Linked DNA regions of Homo sapiens: region 2 is linked to region 1. Evidence: fine-mapped expression QTL. A gene starts in region 1. The other region holds a variant in brackets. All regions are shown on one strand. Distances are between the middles of the regions.

Region 1 (8,000 bases):
CACCTCTACCAGCAGCATTGTCCCTGGACGACTGTACTCGCAGGGCACATAACCCATCGCCACATTCTTCTTCAGAGAGGGGGAGGGGCAGCCACTAGTCACAGTACCTGTCAAGCAAGCATAAGCCACGCATCAGCACCACCCTGCCAGTGCCCCCACCCTCCTGGGAAGAGACAAGGGTTTCCCAGCTTCCCTGGTCCACCTACCAATCTTGGTACCCTCCATGTTCAGGATGGGACTGTGTGCCCGCATGGGGGCCCCCTCACACATCAACCCCACACGCCTCCGCTGCACCCTGCCCTTCAGCTGGGGAACAATGACCTTGGCTCCAGGGAAGTCCATAGCAGCTCGGCGGCGCTTCCCTGGAGAATGACACATGAGACATAAGCCACAGCCCATAGAAGCCCTGGCCACAGGAGGTCCTTATGAGGTCCTCAAGTAACACACTATCTAGCATCAAGGCCCCTTTGCTTGGGCTACTCCAGGCTCTATTCCTCCCTTCACTGCCGTCAGCCAACCAACCACCTCCTATCCCCTGGAGGCCATGCTGCCCACCTGCCGAGCGTCTTCAGTTTCTTTTTTTTTTTTTTGAGATGGAGTCACTCTGTCGCCCAGGCCTAGAATGCAGTGGCACGATCTCAGCTCACTGCAAACTCTGCCTCCCAGGTTCAAGCAATTTACCTGCCTCAGTCTCCCGAGTAGCTGGGATAACAGGCACCCGCCACCACGCCTGGCTAATTTTTATATTTTCAGTAGAGACGGGGTCTCACCATGTTGGCCAGGCTATTCTCGAATTCCTGACCTCATGATCCACCCACCTTGGCCTCCCAAAGTGCTGGGATTACAGGTGTGAGCCACCATGCCCGGCAGCATCTTCAGTTTCTTTTTTTTTTTTTTTTTTTTTTTTGAGACGGGGTCTCGCTCTATCGCCCTGGCTGGAGGTGCAGTGGCGCAATCTCGGCTCACTGCAAACTCCGCCGCCCAGGTTCATGCCATTCTCCTGCCTCAGCCTCCCGAGTAGCTGGGACTACAGGCGCCCGCCACAATGCCCAGCTAATTTTTTTTTTGTATTTTTAGTAGAGACGGGGTTTCACCATGTTAGCCAGGATGGTCTTGATCTCCTGACCTCGTGATCCACCCGCCTCGGCCTCCCAAAGTGCTGGGATTACAGATGTGAGCCACCGCATCCGGCCAACATCTGCAGTTTCTAATGGGCAAAGGCACAGTGGCACCTTCAGGGAAGGGAGGCTCAGGAAGGCTTCAGGCTACATAACCTTTGGATGAGTCATGGGCTGGCTAGTCTTATCAAGGGTCACCCTGACCTCCAGGACCCTATCCTTTAGTGCTGGCCCAGCTCACCCAGTGTCCAACTGAGGCTGCCCTCCACAGGTGTAGTGTGTTCATCAATGTCATTCCCATACAGGCAGAGGCCTGCCTCCAGGCGCAGGCTGTCCCTGGCTGCCAGCCCTGCCAGCTTCACCTCTGGGTTTTTCAGAATAGCTGTTGCCAGGTGAACTGCCCCCGCTACCGGCACCGAGATCTGTATGAAACACCAGAGGGCAGATGGGAAGCTCCCTGTACCACATACCCCCAACCCCTCACATGCATCCTGTGCCCTGTACTGCCCCCACACCACTTCTTGACACACCTCCACACCATCCTCTCCTGTGTAGCCACAGCGGGTCACGCGGCAGCCAGACACGCCAAACACCTCCATCACAGCACTGGTCATGAAGGGCAGTTTCCTCAGGTCATCTGCCACGCCGGCCTGTAGTACCTGGGCTGCAGTGGGGCCTGGGCCCAGGGAGCCAGTGACCAAGTATCCAGGTCCCAGCATCCCTCAAAGCTGGACTAAAGCCTTATTCAGGGACCAGAACAAGCCCTGAGCATGTCTTACTCTGCAAGTGGGAGAAGATGCCCTTGTCCCTAGCCCATGGAGCCTTGTGGTAGGTAGGAGGAGGGCAAGATACAAAACTTAAAATTATGGCACACAAATATCACACCTTCCACACATTCTTCTTGGTATGGCCTCTGTGCTAAGCAGTCAATGAAGCCAGGAAGGCAAAGGTTGGCTCCAACCCCAGCCCAGCCCTCTCACCTTGCAGAGCTAGCAGGGCATTATCCAACACCTCCAGGCCCACATCTCTGCCCTGGTTCTGAAGCTCCCTGACCTTGTCCTAAAAGACAGAAACACAAGAGCATCTGGGGCCACTTACTGAGCAGCTACCATGGGCTGGACGCTGCAGAGCTGGACAGTAGTAGGACAGTGGAGAGGAGGAGGAGGAGGGAGGAAAAAAAAAGGTAGTAGGCTGGTTCCCATCTTACAAGGTCACATAGCTACTAAGTGATAGAGATGACCCAAGCCCAGTTCTGCCACCTCACACCAGAGGGGCCAAGACCCCCTCCCCATGCCTGGTAATCCCCCACCACCAAACCCTGGCGTGCTCCAGAGAGGGCCTGCTCTTGAGTCTCATAGCTGTTCATTCACTGAAAGAGCCATTTTCCAGGTCCCTTGTCTGTGCCAACCCTGTCTTGGACAACAAGGATACTGCTCTATGAACAAGGAAGACAAGGTGTCTAGAACACAGAGGGGGTATACCTGCATGAGGGCCAAATCTTTCTCCCAGCAGCCAGCGTTGGACACCACATACAGGTGGCCCTCAGAAGTATTGGTTACAATCAAGTCATCTAAGATGCCTCCAGCCTCGTTGGTAAACAGCGACAGTGTCCCCTAGGACCAAAGTGGAGCGTTTTGGCTTCCAGGTCCAGGAGGGCAAGGCCAAGGGTGAGCCAGACACAACCCTGGACCCACTTAGTTACCAAAAGGTTATGAACCCTAATGTGAAGGACTCAGGGTGTGCAAGGTACAAGTCTGGGCCCAAGTCCAAGGTCTTTGATCCTCATGCATCAAGTAAGTTTTCATCCCCTCCCTACCTTGGGGTGCTTCCCTGATCTGGTGCAACCTCTGCACCCCTCCCCACTCTGTACTGAGAGTCCCATCTGACACTTAATCTATGACACCTAGGACCTGCTGCTTCACCTACCCAAACCTGGGACGACTTAGCCCATGTGGCAACCCACAGGACAAAAGCTTCAAAGGTCATCTTGATGATCGCAGGCTCTCCTAAGTACTCCATAGCAATGCCCCCAAAAAACTTCCTTAGCCTCCCCACTGGATGGACAAAAAGCCTGAGGTTGAGGGGGTCACATGAATCACCTGGGGATCTTGTTAAAATGAAGGTTCTGATTCAGCAGGTCTGCAGCAGTGCCTGAGACTATATTCCTAACAAGCTCCAAAGATGCTGGTTTAGAGACCACACTTTGTTGTTGTTATTTTTCTTTTTAGACTGAGTCTCACTCTGTTGCCCAGGCCAGAGTGCAGTGGTGCAACCTCAGCTTGCTGCAACCTCAGCCTCCCGAGTAGCTGGGACTACAAGCACGCGCCACCACGCCCGGCTAATTTTTGTGTTTTTAGTAGAAACGAGGTTTTGCCATGTTGGCCAGGCTGGTCTCGAACTCCTGACCTCAGGTGATCCACCCGCCTTGGCCTCCCCAAGTGCCAGGATTACAGGTGTTTGAGTCACGTCGCCTGGCCAGGGACCACATGTTGAATAGAGAGGGGTTAAGCAGAAGGGATGGCCAGAGAGCAGCATATTAACCTTGGTTTCTGGCCTCCTAGCCTGATGTAGTAAGACTGGGATATTCCCCTCCCTACAAATGTCTGTGTCTCTGGAAATGACTCAGGGATTCTGTCCAAGACTGCAAGCCCTGAGAAGCTGTGTTTGACTCATCTCTGTGCCCCTAAGCCTGAGGTAGGGACTCAGCCCATTTGCTGGCTCATGACTAAGAAAACTCATAGAGCAGAAATAAAAGGGCCCACCTGGTTTGGTCTTAGCTCTGCAATGTCTCCAACCACTAGACTCTCCATCAGCTTCACCCGGTCACTACCAAGTATCTTGGTCTGGGGAAGAGATTGAAAGCCTCAGGCCATTGCAACAGCTACAATCCAAAAGGCTACTAAGCAAGGATGCATCCTCCCTGCCATCCACAGTGCAGTCCAGCCCACCCAAAGTGACTAACCAGTCTTTTGGTTCTACACGTGGCAAAGGACCACCTTCTGATTTCCTGACCTCCCCCAGTCACTCTGTGTGGGGGGACTGCCAGGGAACTGGACAGGACCTAGCACCTTCCTGAAATAACCCCTTTTCAAACCAACATCCAGCCCAATACATGAGAGTGGGTGTCAGCCCTGGAAAACCCGGGACATTAAGGCACACCATTTAATGGGGGCAAGCTAGAAGGATGAGATGATGAGACCCTCTGAGCTCATTTCCTTGGGGCCATTGACCTATCCATGACACCCCCATGACCTCTAGCTCTTCTGAGAAGGCTGTCCTTGGAATCCAGTTCACAGCAAACAAAGCCAAGGAGTGGACCACTGTAAACAGGGAGGAAGGCCTGATCAGATGGCCAGTGTGCTCCCCTGGCTCACCTGCAGCATATGAGACACGTCAAAGAGCGAGCAGTGCTGGCGTGTGTGCAGGTGCGAGTCAGTGTGACTGTCCCGGTACTGCACTGGCAGACTCCAACCCGCAAACGCCACCATTTTCCCGCCGTGGGCCAGGTGGAAGTCATAGAGCGGTGTCCTGCGGAGCACCTCCTGTGGGCGGCTGGGCTTAGTGCCACCAGGGCCCTAGCCCCCAGCCGCTTCCCTCCCCCACCCTCCAAGATCAGCACCCTCTATCCCACCTGTGCGCAACTAAGTGGACGACACAAGGCCGGGGGGAATGCCTGCAGGCGAAAGCCCAGACGGGCCACCACACTTACAGCCCTCTGCATCGTCGCCTGCAACGAGTGCAGACGGCGCACAGAGGCCACCACACTGCCAGGCACGCCGGGAGATGTAGTCCAGGCCTCTGCTCGGACAGGTCTCTCTCCGGAGCAAAGGATCTGAAGGGGGCGTGGGCAGCCCCAAGGGCAGGCTGGGATTTAGAGCAGAGAATGCAGGAACCCGCAACCACAGGGAAGAAGCCTCCAGCTCTTTCGGCTGACTCTTCAGGGCAGCTCGGGCAATCCAGAGCTGATTGGGCTGCCCAGAACAAAGCTAGGGGCTAGACCGCCCCCTGCAGAACCGCCCTGTCTCCAGAGGGTCAAAGTTCTGGAAAGGGCTGAAAGGTCTGAATCATACCTTTAGGACCTCAAGAGAGTAAGGTCAAGTGGGGGTGGGGAAGGTGGGCCAGCCTGGCAGGTAGGCAGCACCACAGTAGTCTGTCCTCATGTGGACCCCTAGTTCCACAGCTCTCCCACCAGGCAGACACAGGCAGCCAGCAGTCATGCATTCCACAAGTATTTATTGATCTTACTGCATACCAGGCCCTCAGATGGGGACACAGCCACGAATGAAGCATGGTCCCTGCTACCACAAGGTCCTCTTCACTTACACACACACTGAGGACTACTGCTTCGTCACGCTTTCCGAAGCAGCTGAGTGGGGCTATGTAAGTGACCTTGCAGATGAAGTCGCCACCTGCAAGAACTCACAGGTGAGAACAGAGGGTGGCCACCAAAAGGTCACTGAACTCCCCCGAGAAAACTGTTGAGCCACACACATGTCCAACTTTCCAGGTCCAAGACATACTGCAGTACTGCTTTGTAATAGCCACCAGGTGCAAAGCCAGGAAGAACCAGAGGGAAACAGGTTTTTCTCACATGAGGGAAGAGCAGCCTGCATCACTTAATGGTTGGACTGAGTTAATGCAGGACTTAGGCCTCTTAAAAGGCAACAATGAGAACCCTTACTTGGACCCACTCCCCACCACGGTTGATCTCTCATTATGCTGAGCATATCTCTTGGAAAGGGGCAGGGCGGGCGCGGTGGCTCATGCCTGTAATCCCAGCACTTTGGAAGGCCAAGGCAGGCAGATCACCTGAGGTCAGGTGTTTGAGACCAGCCTGACCAACATGGAGAAACCCCATCTCTACTACAAATACAAAATTAGCCAGGCATGGTGATGCATGACTGTAATCCCAGCTACTCGGGAGACTGAGGCAGGAGAATTGCTTGAACCTGGGAGGCGGAGGTTGCAGTTAGCCAAGATTGCACTATTGCACTCCAGCCTGGGCAACAAGAGCAAAACTCAACCTCAAAAAAAACAACAAAAAAGGAGAGGGGCAACTGGGAGAAAGGATAGAGATGTGCTTTGGGCTATGTCAGATGGCAGAAGGGTCCCAGTTCTTTTTTTTTTGTTTGTTTGTTTAAGATGGAGTTTCGCTCTTCTTGCCCAGGCTGGAGTGCAATGGCATGATCTCAGGTCCGCAACCTCCACTTCCCGGGTTCAAGAGATTCTCCTGCCTCAGCCTCCCAAGTAGCTGGGATTACAGGTGCCTACCACCACGCCCAGCTAATTTTTTGTATTTTTAGTAGAGACGGGGTTTCTCCAGGTTGGTCAGGCTGGTCTTGAACTCCTGACCTCAGGTGATCCGCCTGCCTGGGCCTCCCAAAGTGCTGGGATTACAGGCGTGAGCCACTGCACCCTGCCTAGAAGGGTCCCAGTTCTTATGCTCAGGCCCTGGTTTTGCTAGAGACACGTGCCCAGGCCCTATGGGCACACCCACTTGAACATATATTCAGGAGCCAGCTCAGAAACCAAGAGACTCAGGCTGCCCAAATCTTCAGGTTTCCTTCCTAGGCAGGCAGCAGAAGAGTTCAGACAGGAAATTTCTCTCTGTGGCATAACACAAATGGAAAGAAAACCACTAGGGGACACACAGGAAGAAATAAGGTTTCTGTTTCTTCCTCAAGTGTCCCAAGTGCCATGGCAGCAATGGCCTTCCAGGTCCATACATGGAGCAGGTTTTAGTAGGTCAGCCCAGCCCAACTGCACTGACATGAGGGAGCAGGCAGAAGACAGGAATGTGCATGTTGCCAGAAGGGGCAGAGGGCACTCAGGGATTCTCAGTAAGTACAACTGACTGGAGTGTTTTTGGGTAGAAGGAAGAATTGAGTTGCAGCCAGGCGAAGACAGAGCACCCCCATGCCAGGAGCTCATGCTGAAGTAACACGGTAAGCCCCTGAGAATCCTGAATCTGTGAATGTGGCCCAGACAGAACAGGCATGCAGGCAACACTTGGAATGCACAGGAAATACACTTCAGCCTCTGGTGGCCCAAACCAAGTCTGGGTGGGCACAGAAAGGCCAACATCTTGGCTAGGAGCAACCATTCAAGTGTAGGAGAGCAAGTTCAGGTCATAACAGCCATCCACCTGAAATACAAAAGACCATCAGGTCTGATCTGCTCAGGGCAAAGCAAGCCAAGCAGAAGGAAGCGATTACTTACATCAAAGCGGCCGATCCTTGCGGAGGTGTGACTGGCCCGGATCATCTCTGTCAGTGCCCACATCTGCTGCACCTCGGAGGATACCCTGCTGGGGTCTGGGAGACCCTGCTCCAGAAGGAGGGGTCAGTGGCCATGGGTCTCTCCCCAGCAGTGCCCTTCAGGCTCCAGAGAGGCCAACCTGGGCTAGGGGCCCTCCAGCTGAGACCAACAACATTCTCAGATGGCTTATGAAACATGAGGTTAGGGCCTGATGTAGCCCCACAACAGAGATGCCTCAAATCCCACAGAATACCCAGGAGGAAGATAACACCCAAGGGCCCTGGGCCCAGCCCCAGAATTTTACAGGAAGGGGTCTACCTGGCCTGTGTTGGACACTAGAGCCATTCACACATGGTTCTTACCTAGGGTGAGGGCTTACCTCACGGAGGAGTGCAGGTTGCTCACAGGGCACTGGGTGGGAGAGCCACTTGGGAAAGGTCACGGAGGGGCTCTGCAAAGCAAAGATGTACTGCCCTGAGTGAGACAAAGTGGACAGCTCTGGGACCAGATTCCAAGGTCCTAGGAGCAGAGAGAAGGGCCGCTGGGCCTCAGACACTGGGAAAACCCTGTTTAGGGAGCCCACAGAGACCTAAAGAGGCAGTCAGACTACCTAAGTTCTCCTGC
Region 2 (11,759 bases), 83 kb before region 1:
GATCACTTAAGGTCAGGAGTTTGAGACCAGCCTGGCCAACATGGTGAAACCCCATGGTGAGACTCTGTCTCAAAAAAATAATAATAATAAATAAAAATAAAATAAAATAAAACCTGTTGTTTAGCCTGGGCACAGTGACTCACACCTGTAATCCCAGCACTCTGGGACGTCAAGGCGGGAGGATTGCTTGAGCCCAGGAATTCAAGATCAACCTGAACAACATGACAAAACCCACAAAAAATCTCTGCAAAAAATACAATAATTAGTCGAGTGTGGTGGGGCCTGTAGTTCCAGTTACTCAGGAGGCTGAGATGGGAGGATCACCTGAGCCTGGGAAGGTCAAGGTTGTAGTGAGGTGTGATTGTGCTACTGCACGAGGTAGCAGTAGCTACCTTTTTTTTTTTTGAGACAAGATGGCACCTTGTCTCAAAAAAAAAAATAAATGAATAAACTTTCTCCATATCAGCAATAATAAGGCTGTTTCAGCCTCTTATAATTCATGTGTTCACTAGAGTAGCACTTTTTTTTTTTTTTTTTGAGATGGAGTCTCACTTCTGTCGCCCAAGCTGGAGTGGAGTGCAGTGGCGCAATCTCAGCTCACTGAAACCACCATTTCCTGGGTTCCTCCATCTCCCAGGCAACATGACAAAACTCCATCTCTACAAAAAGAAAAAATAAACACATACAAAAATGAGCCAGGAATGCTGGCAAGCACCTGTAGTCCTAGCTACTCAGGAGGCTGAGGTGGAAGGATCACTTAAGTCCAGGAGGTTTACATTTACATTCACAACTTGGCTAGCTATATGGCACAAGAGGCCTAGCTTACAACCTATTTCGGCTTCCTTAACCAAACTCAAATCATTTCTAGCTTTGATTTGAAGTGAGAGACATGCAATTCTCCTTTTCACTTGAACATTTAGAAGACGTTGTTAGGGTTACTAAGTGGCCGAATTTCAGTGTCATTGTGTCTCAGGCAATAGCAAAGCCTGAGGAGAGAGAGAGAGATGGAATGGCTGGTTGGTGAAGCAGCGAGAATACACACAATAATTACCAATTAAGTTCACTGTCTTACATGGGCTCCCTTCATGATGCCCCAAAACAATTACAATAGCAACATGAAAGATCCCTGTTGGCTGGGCATGGTGGCTCATGCCTGTAATCCCAGCACTTTGGGAGGCTGAGGTCGGGAGTTCAAGACCAGCCTGACCAACATGGAGAAACCCCATCTCTACTAAAAATACAAAATTAGCCGGGCGTGGTGGCACATGCCTGTAATCCTAGCTACTCGGGAGGCTGAGGCAGGAGAATCACTTGAACCCAAGAGGTGGAGGTTGCCATGAGCCACGATCATGCCACTGCACTCCTGCCTGGGCAACAAGAGCAAAACTCCGTCTCAAAAAAAAAAAGAAAGCTCCCTGATCACTGATCACCATAACAAATAATAATGAAAAACTTTGAAGTATTTTGAGAATTACCAAAATGTGGTAACAGAGACATGAAGTGAGCACATGCTGTTGTAAAAATGGAACTGACAGATTGTCAAGGCAGCGTTGCCAAATACCTACAAAATTTGCTAAAAATGCAGTATCTGCAACATATAATAAAGCAAAGCACAATAAGCCAAAGTATGCCTGAATTTAAAACCTTAAGAATTCTCCATTTCATAAAAATGAGAAAAAGAACAAAATGTGAACATAATGAAATGATTCCTTAGGGCAACTTCGTGGCATAGTGCCACCATTTGACCTATTTCAGGAAACAAAGTAAATGATATTGTTTATACCATGTAGACCTCTCCTAAAACAAGGTCTGAGCTGAAGCATTGCTCAGTTTTAAAAATATCCAAGTTAGGCCAGGCACAGTGGCTCACACCAACACTCTGGGAAGCCAAGGTGGGAGGATGGCTTGAGGCCAGGAGTTCAACCAGCCTGGGCAACATAGCAAGACCCCGTCTCTACCAAAAAACTTAAAAAACAGCTGAGAGTGGTAGAACACTGTAGTCTCAGTGACTAAGGAGGCTGAGGCAGGAAGATAGCTTGAGCCCAGGAGCTCAAGGCCAGCCTAGCCAACATGGTAGAGACGGGGTTTCACCATGTTGGCCAGGCTGGTCTCGAACTCCTGACCTCAGGTGATCCACCTGCCTTGGCCTCCCAAAGTGCTGAGATTACAGGCGTGAGACACCACTCCTGGCACTGCCCTGATTTTTGACACCCATGACAGATCACCTCTATCATGACTTTAAAGAGGTCTGAAGTCAGGCAAAAGAAAGCCTGGGAAAAGCTGACTCTGTCATCTCAGTGCATGTACAAGTGCAAGCAAGCTCTAGTGTGTTACATGTCGCTTTTCCCACAGTTCCCATTGGGAGCTGACTACAGTCATAACTCTGTCTACTGACCTTCAACCTCTCCTCACACTAGTTATATGATAAAAACAGCCATCACAGGAATTCTTGATGAAAGTTCACAGGTTTACAATTTGTTCCACTGCAAAGGTAACAAAAAATTCTGGTTCTTAAATTTTAGATACAATTTCAAAATGACATCCTATTTCTTTCCATTCCATATACTAACTTAAAATGTGAAATAGCTAGCAGAACTAATTTGCAAAGAGAGAAAGTTAAAATGTTAGAAGCATACTCTTATCAGATGCAGTTAATTTAAGGGAAAAAAGTAGCTTAACTTCTCATTAAGGGTTTGCAAAGACTTCTGCTATAGATGCAAAATGAGGATACTTGTTTCTATCTCCTCACACTAGGAAAGTTCACAACGTCCATGTTACAGATGCACATAACATCAGGCCACTGCCCAGGTGAATGTTTAGCTAGAAAAGCAACATTTACTATACCTGAAAATAGCCCAGAGTTGTCTATTGGGCCAGGAAATAGGTTATGTTCACCCACATTGTACATGTCCCAGCTGTCAAAGCCCACATACTTCTTCCACTGCTTGAACCACCGGCTGTCAATAAGATACCTAGAGAGAGACAGAAATTTACTGTAGCAGAAAAGCTGAGATTATAAATTTCTGCAGCTGCTTCCTTAATCTTTTTTATGGTCCTTCCACTTGGGGCATATGCAATACCCACTAAAAAACACTGTCACAAGAGCAAGAGCAGGGCCCAGGCCCCACATGGCACAGAGAGTCTGGCCCAGGGTATGCATCCATTAAGTGAAATGATTGTTCAAAGAGTGAATAAAAGAAAGAAAACAAGTGGTTTCAAAATGCTTATTTAAATGCAGTCTTTCTTTTTTTTTCTTTTAGACGGAGTCTTGTTCTGTCGCCCAGGCTGGAGTATAGTGACACAATCTTGGCTCACTGCAACCTCTGCCTCCCAGGTTCAAGCGATTCTCCTGCCTCAGCCTCCTGACTAACTGGGATTACAGGCACCTGTCACCACTCCCAGCTAATTTTTGTATTTTTAGTAGAGACGGGGTTTCACCATGTTGGGCAGGCTGGTCTCAAACTCCTGACCTCAGGTGATCCGCCTACTTCGGCCTCCCAAAGTGCTGGGATTACAGGCATGAGCCACTGCACCTGGCCTCTTTTTTTTTTTTTTTTTTTTTTGAGACGGAGTTTTCGCTCTTGTTGCCCAAGCTGGAGTGCAGTGGTATGATCTTGGCTCACTACAACCTCCACCTCCTGGGTTCAAGCAATTCTCCTGCCTCAGCCTCCCAAGTAGCTGGGATTACAGGCATGCATCACCAGGCCCAGCTAATTTTTTTGTATTTTTAGTAGAGATGGAGTTTCACCATGTTGGCCAGGCTGGTCTCGAACTCCTGATCTCAGGTGATCCTCCTGCCTTGGCCTCCCAAAGTGCTGTGATTACATGCATGAGCTACCACACTCAGTCTAAATGGAGTCTTTTCATGGGTAAAATCATGTTTGCTAATAAACAAGTCATTAACTTCTTTTTTTTTTGAGACAGAGTTTCGCTCTTGTTACCCAGGCTGGAGTGCAATGGTGTGATCTCGGCTCTCCGCAACCTCCGCCTCCCGGGTTCAAGTGATTCTCCTGCCTCAGTCTCCCGTAGCTGGGATTACAGGTGTGTGCCACCACACCTGGCTAATTTTGTATTTTTAGTAGAGACAGGGTTTCTCCATGTTGGTCAGGACAGTCTCAAACTCCCTACCTCAGGTAATCTGCCCACCTCGGCCTCCCAAAGTGCTGTGATTACAGGCGTGAGCCACCGCACCCGGCCACAAGTCATTAATTTCATAATGATCTTTACAGAAGTCCCACTCCAGGCAGACAGTTTGGTTACACTGTTTTGCTTGACATGAACAGCACTAAACTAATGCTCTTTCTGAAAATGGGTTAGAAACACCACCCACTTCAGTTTTCCTTTAAGGACCAAAGGAGTTCCAAAAATGTACACACAAGGCCAGGCGCAGTGGCTCACACCTGTAATCCCAGCACTTTGAGAGGCCGAGGTGGATGGTCACTTGAGCTCAGGAGTTCAAGACCAGCCTGGGCAACAAACCCCATCTCTACTAAAATTACAAAAATTAGCTGAGCGTGGTGGCACATGCCTGTAGTCCCAGCTGCTCGGGAGGCTGAGGCACAAGAATCACTTGCACCCGGAAGACAGAAGTTGCAGTGAGCTGAGATCATGCCATTGCACTCTAGCCTGGGTGACAGGAATAAAACCCTGTCAAAAAAAAAAAAGTACATAACATGCGTGTACATATATAAATATACACATACACATGTACATATAATAGTGCCTATTGTTCATCTTGTCAAAAAGCATTAATTTGTGCTTCATATTCAACTTACCACTTTTTTACTTAAATGTAAGCAAATGTGGTATTTTATTTACCTATTTATTTCCTTAGAGAGAGGGTCACCCAGGCTAGAGTGCAGTGGCACAATCATAGCTCTCTGTAGCCTCAAACTCCTGGGCTCAAGTGATCCTCCTGCCTCAGCCTCTGAGTAGCTGTGACTATAGGCACATACCACCATGCCTGGCTAATTTATTTTTTTATTTTTATTTTGTAGAGGCTAGCTCTTGCTATGTTGCCCAGGCTGGTCTTGAACTCCTGGCCTCAAGTGATCCTCCTGCCTCAGCTTCCCAAAGTGCTGGGATTACAGGCATGAGCCACTGCACCAGACCTGTTTATATTTTTAAAGTATCACTGTGCTGGCCGGGAGCGGTGGCTCACGCCTGTAATCCCAGCACTTTGGGAGGCTGAGTCAGGTGGATCACGAGGTCAGGAGATCGAGACCATCCTGGCCAACATGGTGAAACCCTGTCTCTACTAAAAATACAAACATTAGCGGGGCATGGTGGTGCATGCCTATAATCCCAGCTACTCGGGAGGCTGAAGCAGGAGAATCGCTTGAACCCGGGAGGCAGAGATTGCAGTGAGCCGAGATCGCGCCACTGCACTCCAGCCTGGTGATGCAGCGAGACTTCGTCTCAAAAAAAAAAAAAAAAAAAAAAAAAAAAAGTATCTCTATGCTGTTTTACAATTAAAACAATCTCTGTGGAGCAACAAAGCATCAACAATTATATTGGTGCATCCTTAAAATTTTATAACCAACAAATGTGAGAGGAGGTCAGGCAGCTTCCCAGAGGTCACAAGGATCCATAAACACATCCATCTCTAAAATGCTATTTTTCTTCCAAATCCCTTGAGCAATACCTTCCATACAATTTTACTGTATGATTTTAGTCTATCTTAAACTTCCTCTACTTCTGCTGAGTATTCTTTATGAACCCTATAGAGGTTAACTTAAAAAGTACCTCTGCTAGGCCGGGCGCAGTAGCTTCCGCCTGTAATCCCAGCACTTTGGGAGGCCACAGCGGGCGATCACCTGAGATCTGGAATTCGAGACCAGCCTGACCAAAATGGAGAAACCCCGTCTCTACTAAAAATACAAAAAAAATTAGCCGGCCGTGGTGGCGCATGCCTGTAATCCTAGCTACTGGGGAGGCTGAGGCAGGAGAATCGCTTGAACATGGGAGGGGGAGGTTGCCGTGACCCGAGATCGCGCCATTGCCCTCCAGCATGGGCAACAAGAGCGAAATTCCTTCTCAAAAAAAAAAAAAAAAAGAAAAGAAAAGAAAAGAAAACACAAAAAAAGTACCTCTGTTTACCCTGCCTTTCACAAACTGGTTAGCTCAAGGTGAATACATAAGCTGTTATCTGTACTCCTCCTAACCCCAATTTTTCTATTCTCCTGCTCAATTCCTCGGCAGATCATCACCACAATGATTTCTTAAAGATAGGTAACACTCGGGCCGAGCACGGTGGCTCCCACCTGTAATCCCAGCACTTTGGGAGGCCGAGGCGGGTGGATCATAAGGTCAAGAGTTTGAGACCAGCCTACCCAACATGGTGAAACCCGGTCTCTACTAAAAATACAAAAAATTAGCTGGGTGTGGTGGCGTGAGCCTGTAATCCCAGCTACTCGGGAGGCTGAGGCAGGAGAATCGCTTGAACCCGGGAGGCGGAGGTTGCCGTGAGCCAAGATCACGCCACTGCACTCCAGCTTGGGCAACAAGAGTGAAACTCCATCTCAAAACAAAACAAAACAAACAAGATGGGTAACAATCATACTCGATGCAAAGTCTAGCCTTAGTTTTTCTACTCCTACACAATTACACCACCCAGGAATCTCTCCAGTAGTACAAAGTATTGTCCCCTCTACTAAACAATCTATTAAGATGCCTAATAACTCAGCCTGGGTCTTCTAAATTCTGGACCCTTCATCTTCTATCTAGCTCCAGGACCTAGGCTATCCTCCTCTCCCACTCCAAGACACTGCTGCCGCAAATATTTTTGACACTTGCTACCAAAATAATCGGGGTTCTCAGACATTTGTTCAGCTTCTGACCTTGACATCTGTTGGCAGTTTACAAGTTACAAAGTATCTACTTCTGATTTTCCCCTCAACCCACTGAGGTCGGTGAGCCAAATATTGCTATCCTGGTTTTAACAGTGAGGAATCCAGGTCTGTGACACCTTCGCCCAAGGTCACACGGCGAGTCCTCATGGTAAAGGGCTCTCCCCACCCTTAGGGTCCCCACCAACCTTCCCCTTCTCCACATCCCTCCTCCTGGCCCCCGCCGGGCCCGCCCCCTAGGGCTCCAAATGAACTGAGACGACACTCAGGCCCCGCCTGCGCTTTCCCAGAGCTGATCCTGGAGTTATTCTCCTGAGGGGCAGGTGTCAGGCTACTCTTCCAGGGTCACTACATACCATCCCCGCCCAGCCCCTACTCTAGCCGAGAAAAAGGAGGCCCCTTTTTCTCGGCCCCTGGTTCTGCATAGAGGAAGAGCGAGCCGGGAGCTCACCACTGCGCCCCGCGTTGGAGTGTGGTCCTCATTAAGGGTCCAAGCTCGGACTTCTGAGTCTCCGCATCCGGTCGCTCACGGCAGCCTCCACCTTCCGCCATCTCCTCCGCG[G/C]CCCCGGCCCAGCCGGCCCGGACATCCGCCCCGCGCGCGGCGTGCTATAGACCGCGCCCACGCACGCACGCTCGCGTGCCCGCCCCTGCCCCACCTCGAGCCGCGGCCTTCGGCTCCTGCAGCCGCTGTCTTTTCTCCCCTCCGCTCTCGCGCCACCTAGCTCACCGGCGAACAGTGGAGCGGAAAGGCACACGCGAGAGGGGTGGGCGGGGAGCAGCAGCTGCTACTTCCTCCCGCCCTGCCGCCCGCTACGCGGCCTTCGGGCGCCCCTTCCTCTGCTCAGGATGGCGCTACACTTCGAAGCTCTGTTCAGCCCGCCGATCTCAGGGAGTTAGGCAGCAAGCCCACGACCCATCGGGCACCCCAGCCTGGCCTTCGAGGTTATCGTGGTCCTAAATAAATGCAGGCCAGGTGCGAGAAGCCCGGTAGTTAGGTCTGCTCATTCTCACCCCTGCAATTCCGCTTTCAGCTGGAGGCCTTAGGCGAGTCAGCTGCCCAAACGTGGGATCGGGGCTCCTGCTCCAGCGGCCCTACAGGGATTTCGGGAAGTACCATGTGCACCAGCGCCTTGGGACCAAGACTCAATGGTGTGTTGTAGTCATTAACAGTCGCCTTAAACAGTCGACGCCAGAGCCACCTGGCCCACCGCAGAATTCCGTCAGCTCTTCATACTGAGCTACTTGCCAAGCAGCCACAGAGGGGCGATAGCAACAGGGGAAGGAGAGGTACTCCACATTAGTTACCCAGGCGTGTACTTAGTTCCTGGAACAAGATACAACGTCCTGAACACTATGTTTTCCAGTCGCCCCGCTCACACACACAACCCTCCTCTTGGAGGGAGAAGTAAACCCAGAGGAAAGAGGAAGTCAGGCAGTTGGTCTAGATGCGTCTCCATACACTTGTCTAACAGTCCTTGTCCTCAGAGAAAAATAAGACCTAGTTCCTGCCCTCATAGAATCTAGTAGAAAAGAAGAGATGTTACAGAAATAACCTCAATGCCTAGCAGTATGTGGTAAGTGCCATTAAAGTGTGTGAACCAGGCCGGGCGCGGTGGTTCAAGCCTGTCGTCCCAGCACTTTGGGAGGCTGAGGCGGAAGGATAGGTTCAGCCCAGGAGTTAGAGACCAACCTCGGCAACATAGCGAAATCCCGTCTCTACAAAAAAATACAAAAAATAGCCGGGCAGTGGCTCGCGTCTGTGGTCCCAGGTACTTGGGAGGCTGAGGTAGGAAGATCCCTTGAGCCCAGGAGGTCGAGGTTGCAGTGAGTCGAGATGGCGCCACTGCACTTGAGACTGGACGGCAAAGTGAGACCCTGTCTCAAAAAAAAAAAAATAAATACAAATAAAGGGTGTGAACCGGCCGGGCGCGGTGGCTCACACCTGTAATCCCAGCACTTTGGGAGGCCGAGGCAGGAGGATCACCTGAGGTCGGGCATTCGAGACCAGCCTGACCAACGTGGAGACCGAAATGTCTTAAAAAAAAAAAAAAAAAAAGACCGGGCGTCCGGCGCGGTGGTTCATGTTTGTAATCCTAGGACTTTGGGAGGCCGAGGCGGGCAGATCACGAGGTTAGGAGTTCGAGACCAGCGTGGCTAATATGGTGAAACCCCTTCTCTACTAAAAATACAAAAAAAAAAAAAAAAATTAGCCGTTAGTGGTGGCCCACACCTAGTCTCAGCTACTCGGGAGGCTAAGGCAGAAGAATCGCTTGAACCTGGGAGGCAGAGGTTGCAGTGAGCCGAGATTGCGCCACTGCACTCCAGCCTGGGCAACAGAGCAAGACCCCCTCTAAAAAAAAAAGGGGGTGTGAACCAAAGGCTGTAGAACGCCAGGCACAACCCCTGCTCTCATAGGAAGCCTTTGACTTGAGTAACATTTGAGTGTGGTATTGAAAAAAAATGCTGGCAGAATAAAGATGAGGATGCATGTTACAGGAGGGGAGACTCAAGGGACCAGAAGATAATTTCTGGAAAAGGCAGGACAGGATCAGAGAGTGGGGATTAGGCCAGTTGAGGCGGGCACTACAACGCTACAACAGCCTAAGGGGATCTAAAGCTAGAAAGGAGGCCAGACAGACCATATATCCTGCCTTAAAAGGCAGGCAGGCATTATAGGAAGTTTTGAAGCAGAGACAAAATGGCTGAGGGTGCTTCACGCCCACGGTGGTGTAACTCAGACACAGAACCATTAGGAACCTCTCACTATGGAGGTGGCTGTGAGGGAGAAGAGGAGAAACAGAGAAGCCATGTCTATTTTATTTTATTATTCTTATTTTTCTACCTATTCCTGTTGAAAAGATGAGCTATGTTTTGTGTCGGGGGTGAAGGAAGGGGAACTGGCCCAGTGAAAATACGGTAGGTCATTTGAACAGATTTACTATTTTTATGTTGGGTTTGGCCAATTGAAATTAATTTGCACTCCCTGGGTCATCCATCACACACCATCTGATAAGAAAGGCCTCTTGGCAATTGGGTAGATAGTAGGAGAAAGTAAATATGGAATTAAAACTGCCTTAAATAACCACATAGTAATTAATCCCCTGTAGATAAGAGTTACCACCACCACATGATGATTCTACATCTGCAGAGCCAACCCTAACAAGTCCCCTTCTATGAAAGTTCTTTGAAACTCGTTTTTGTTTTGTTTTGTTTTGTTGTTTTTTCTGAGATGGAGTCTTGCTGGGTCCCCCAGGCTGGAGTGCAGTGGGGCAATCTCAGCTCACTGCAACCTCTGCCTCCCTGGATCAAGCGATTCTCCTGCCTCAGCCTCCTGAGTAGCTAGAATTACAGGTGTGCGCCACCACGCCTGGCTAATTTTTGTATTTTTAGTAGAGATGGGGTTTCACCATGTTGGGCAGGCTGGTCTCAAACTCCTGACCTCATGATCCACTGGCCTCAGCCTCCCAAAGTGCTGGGATTAAAGGTGTGAGGCACCGTGCCCGGCTGAAACTCTTAAAAATGTTATCAAAAAAGAAACACTACCTTTAGTCCTGTTATTTATGGAAAAAGAAAGTTGAGGCCAGGCGTGGTGGCTCACGCCTGTAATCCCAGCACTTTGGCTTTGGAAAGCCAAGGCAGGCGGATCGCCTGAGGTCAGGAGTTCGAGACCAGCCTGGCCAATGTGGTGAAACCCTGTCTCTACTAAAAATGCAAAAATTAATTGGGCATGGTGGCGAGCACCTGTAATCCCAGCTACTCAGGAGGCTAAGGTAGGAGAATCACTTGAAACTGGGAGATGGAGGTAGCAGTGAGTCAAGATCGCACTACTGCACTCCAGGCTGGGTGACAGAGAGAGACTCTGTCTCAAAAAAAAAAAAAAGTTGGTTACTGACATCGGTTCAGAATCTACATTTCAGGGTGTCTGCTTCCCTCTTCTTTTTTTAGCAGTTTCACCAAACCATTTATGGCAGTCTTAAGGAAGACAAGTAGGACAAGTCCTCAGCACCACTAGAAAAGGGGACAAAACCTAATTATAAAAATGAAAAATTTGGACAATATTTTTAAGTCAGGAATTTAGTGCTTTTAATAGCTATAAAAATAGCGCACTAATTATTGGTAGCCCTTAAAAATTAATATTAGGATTGCAAAATATTCTTCTTGATATCTGGGTATTTGGAGGGAAAAAAAGAAAAATAAATAAATAAAAGATTACAAAATGCTGGTAGTTGAAATGTGAAGAATAAAGTGAATTCCATAGTTGGAAGATCACCTTTTTTTTTTTTTTTTTTTTTTTTGAGACAGAGTCTTTGTTGCCCAGGCTAAAGTGCAGTGGTATAATCATGGCTCACTTGCAGCCTCGACCTATTGGGCTCAAGTGATCCTCCTACCTCAGCCTCCCAAATAGCTGGGACTACTGGTCTGCATCACCATGCCTAGCTAACCAGACTACTGGTCTGCATCACCATACCTAGCTAATTTTCATATTTTTAGTATAGATGGAGTTTCACCATGTTGCCCAGGCTGGTCTTGAACTCCTGGCCTCAAGTGATCCTCCGCCTCCCAAGTGCTGGGATTGCAGTCATGCGCCACCGTGCCCGGACTACAAGGTCACCATTATTTACAAAGTCTTTAAACTTTGTTAGCCAGTTTGTTTGATTTAAATGGTGGGGGTGGCCGGGCGCAGTGGCTCATGCCTGTAATCCCAGCACTTTAGGAGGCCAAGGCAGTCGGATCAGGAGGTCAGGAGTTCGAGACCAGCCTGACCAACATGGCGAAACCCCATCTCTACTAAAAATACAAAAATTATCTGGGCGTGGTGGCATGGGCCTGTAATCCCAGCTACTCAGAAGGCTGAGGCAGGAAAATCGCTGGAACCTGGGAGGCAGAGGTTGTGGTGAGCCAGGATCGTGC

Evidence for each region. PIP is the estimated chance that this variant, and not a neighbour inherited with it, causes the effect.
Region 2: its variant is fine-mapped to the expression of AMT in whole blood (TOPMed, PIP 0.95).

Annotation. Positions count from the first base shown.
Region 1 is chr3:49,417,612-49,425,611 of GRCh38, forward strand. It overlaps AMT (aminomethyltransferase), which reads right to left and starts at 4,862. Exons shown (of 9, transcript NM_000481.4): 1 at 4,750-4,862; 2 at 4,493-4,660; 3 at 3,881-3,961; 4 at 2,600-2,731; 5 at 2,099-2,177; 6 at 1,649-1,794; 7 at 1,360-1,540; 8 at 207-362; 9 at 1-107. The coding sequence starts at 4,839. It overlaps NICN1 (nicolin 1, tubulin polyglutamylase complex subunit), which reads right to left. Exons shown (of 6, transcript NM_032316.3): 4 at 7,756-7,827; 5 at 7,338-7,442; 6 at 4,722-7,263. The coding sequence ends at 7,222. RefSeq lists enhancers at 47-765, 3,737-4,489, 4,490-5,243.
Region 2 is chr3:49,332,625-49,344,383 of GRCh38, forward strand. It overlaps USP4 (ubiquitin specific peptidase 4), which reads right to left and starts at 7,429. Exons shown (of 22, transcript NM_003363.4): 1 at 7,300-7,429; 2 at 2,845-2,972. The coding sequence starts at 7,400. RefSeq lists a silencer at 7,370-7,559 and enhancers at 7,600-8,099, 7,730-7,899, 7,990-8,049. The variant G/C (reference allele first, on the strand shown) is at 7,411.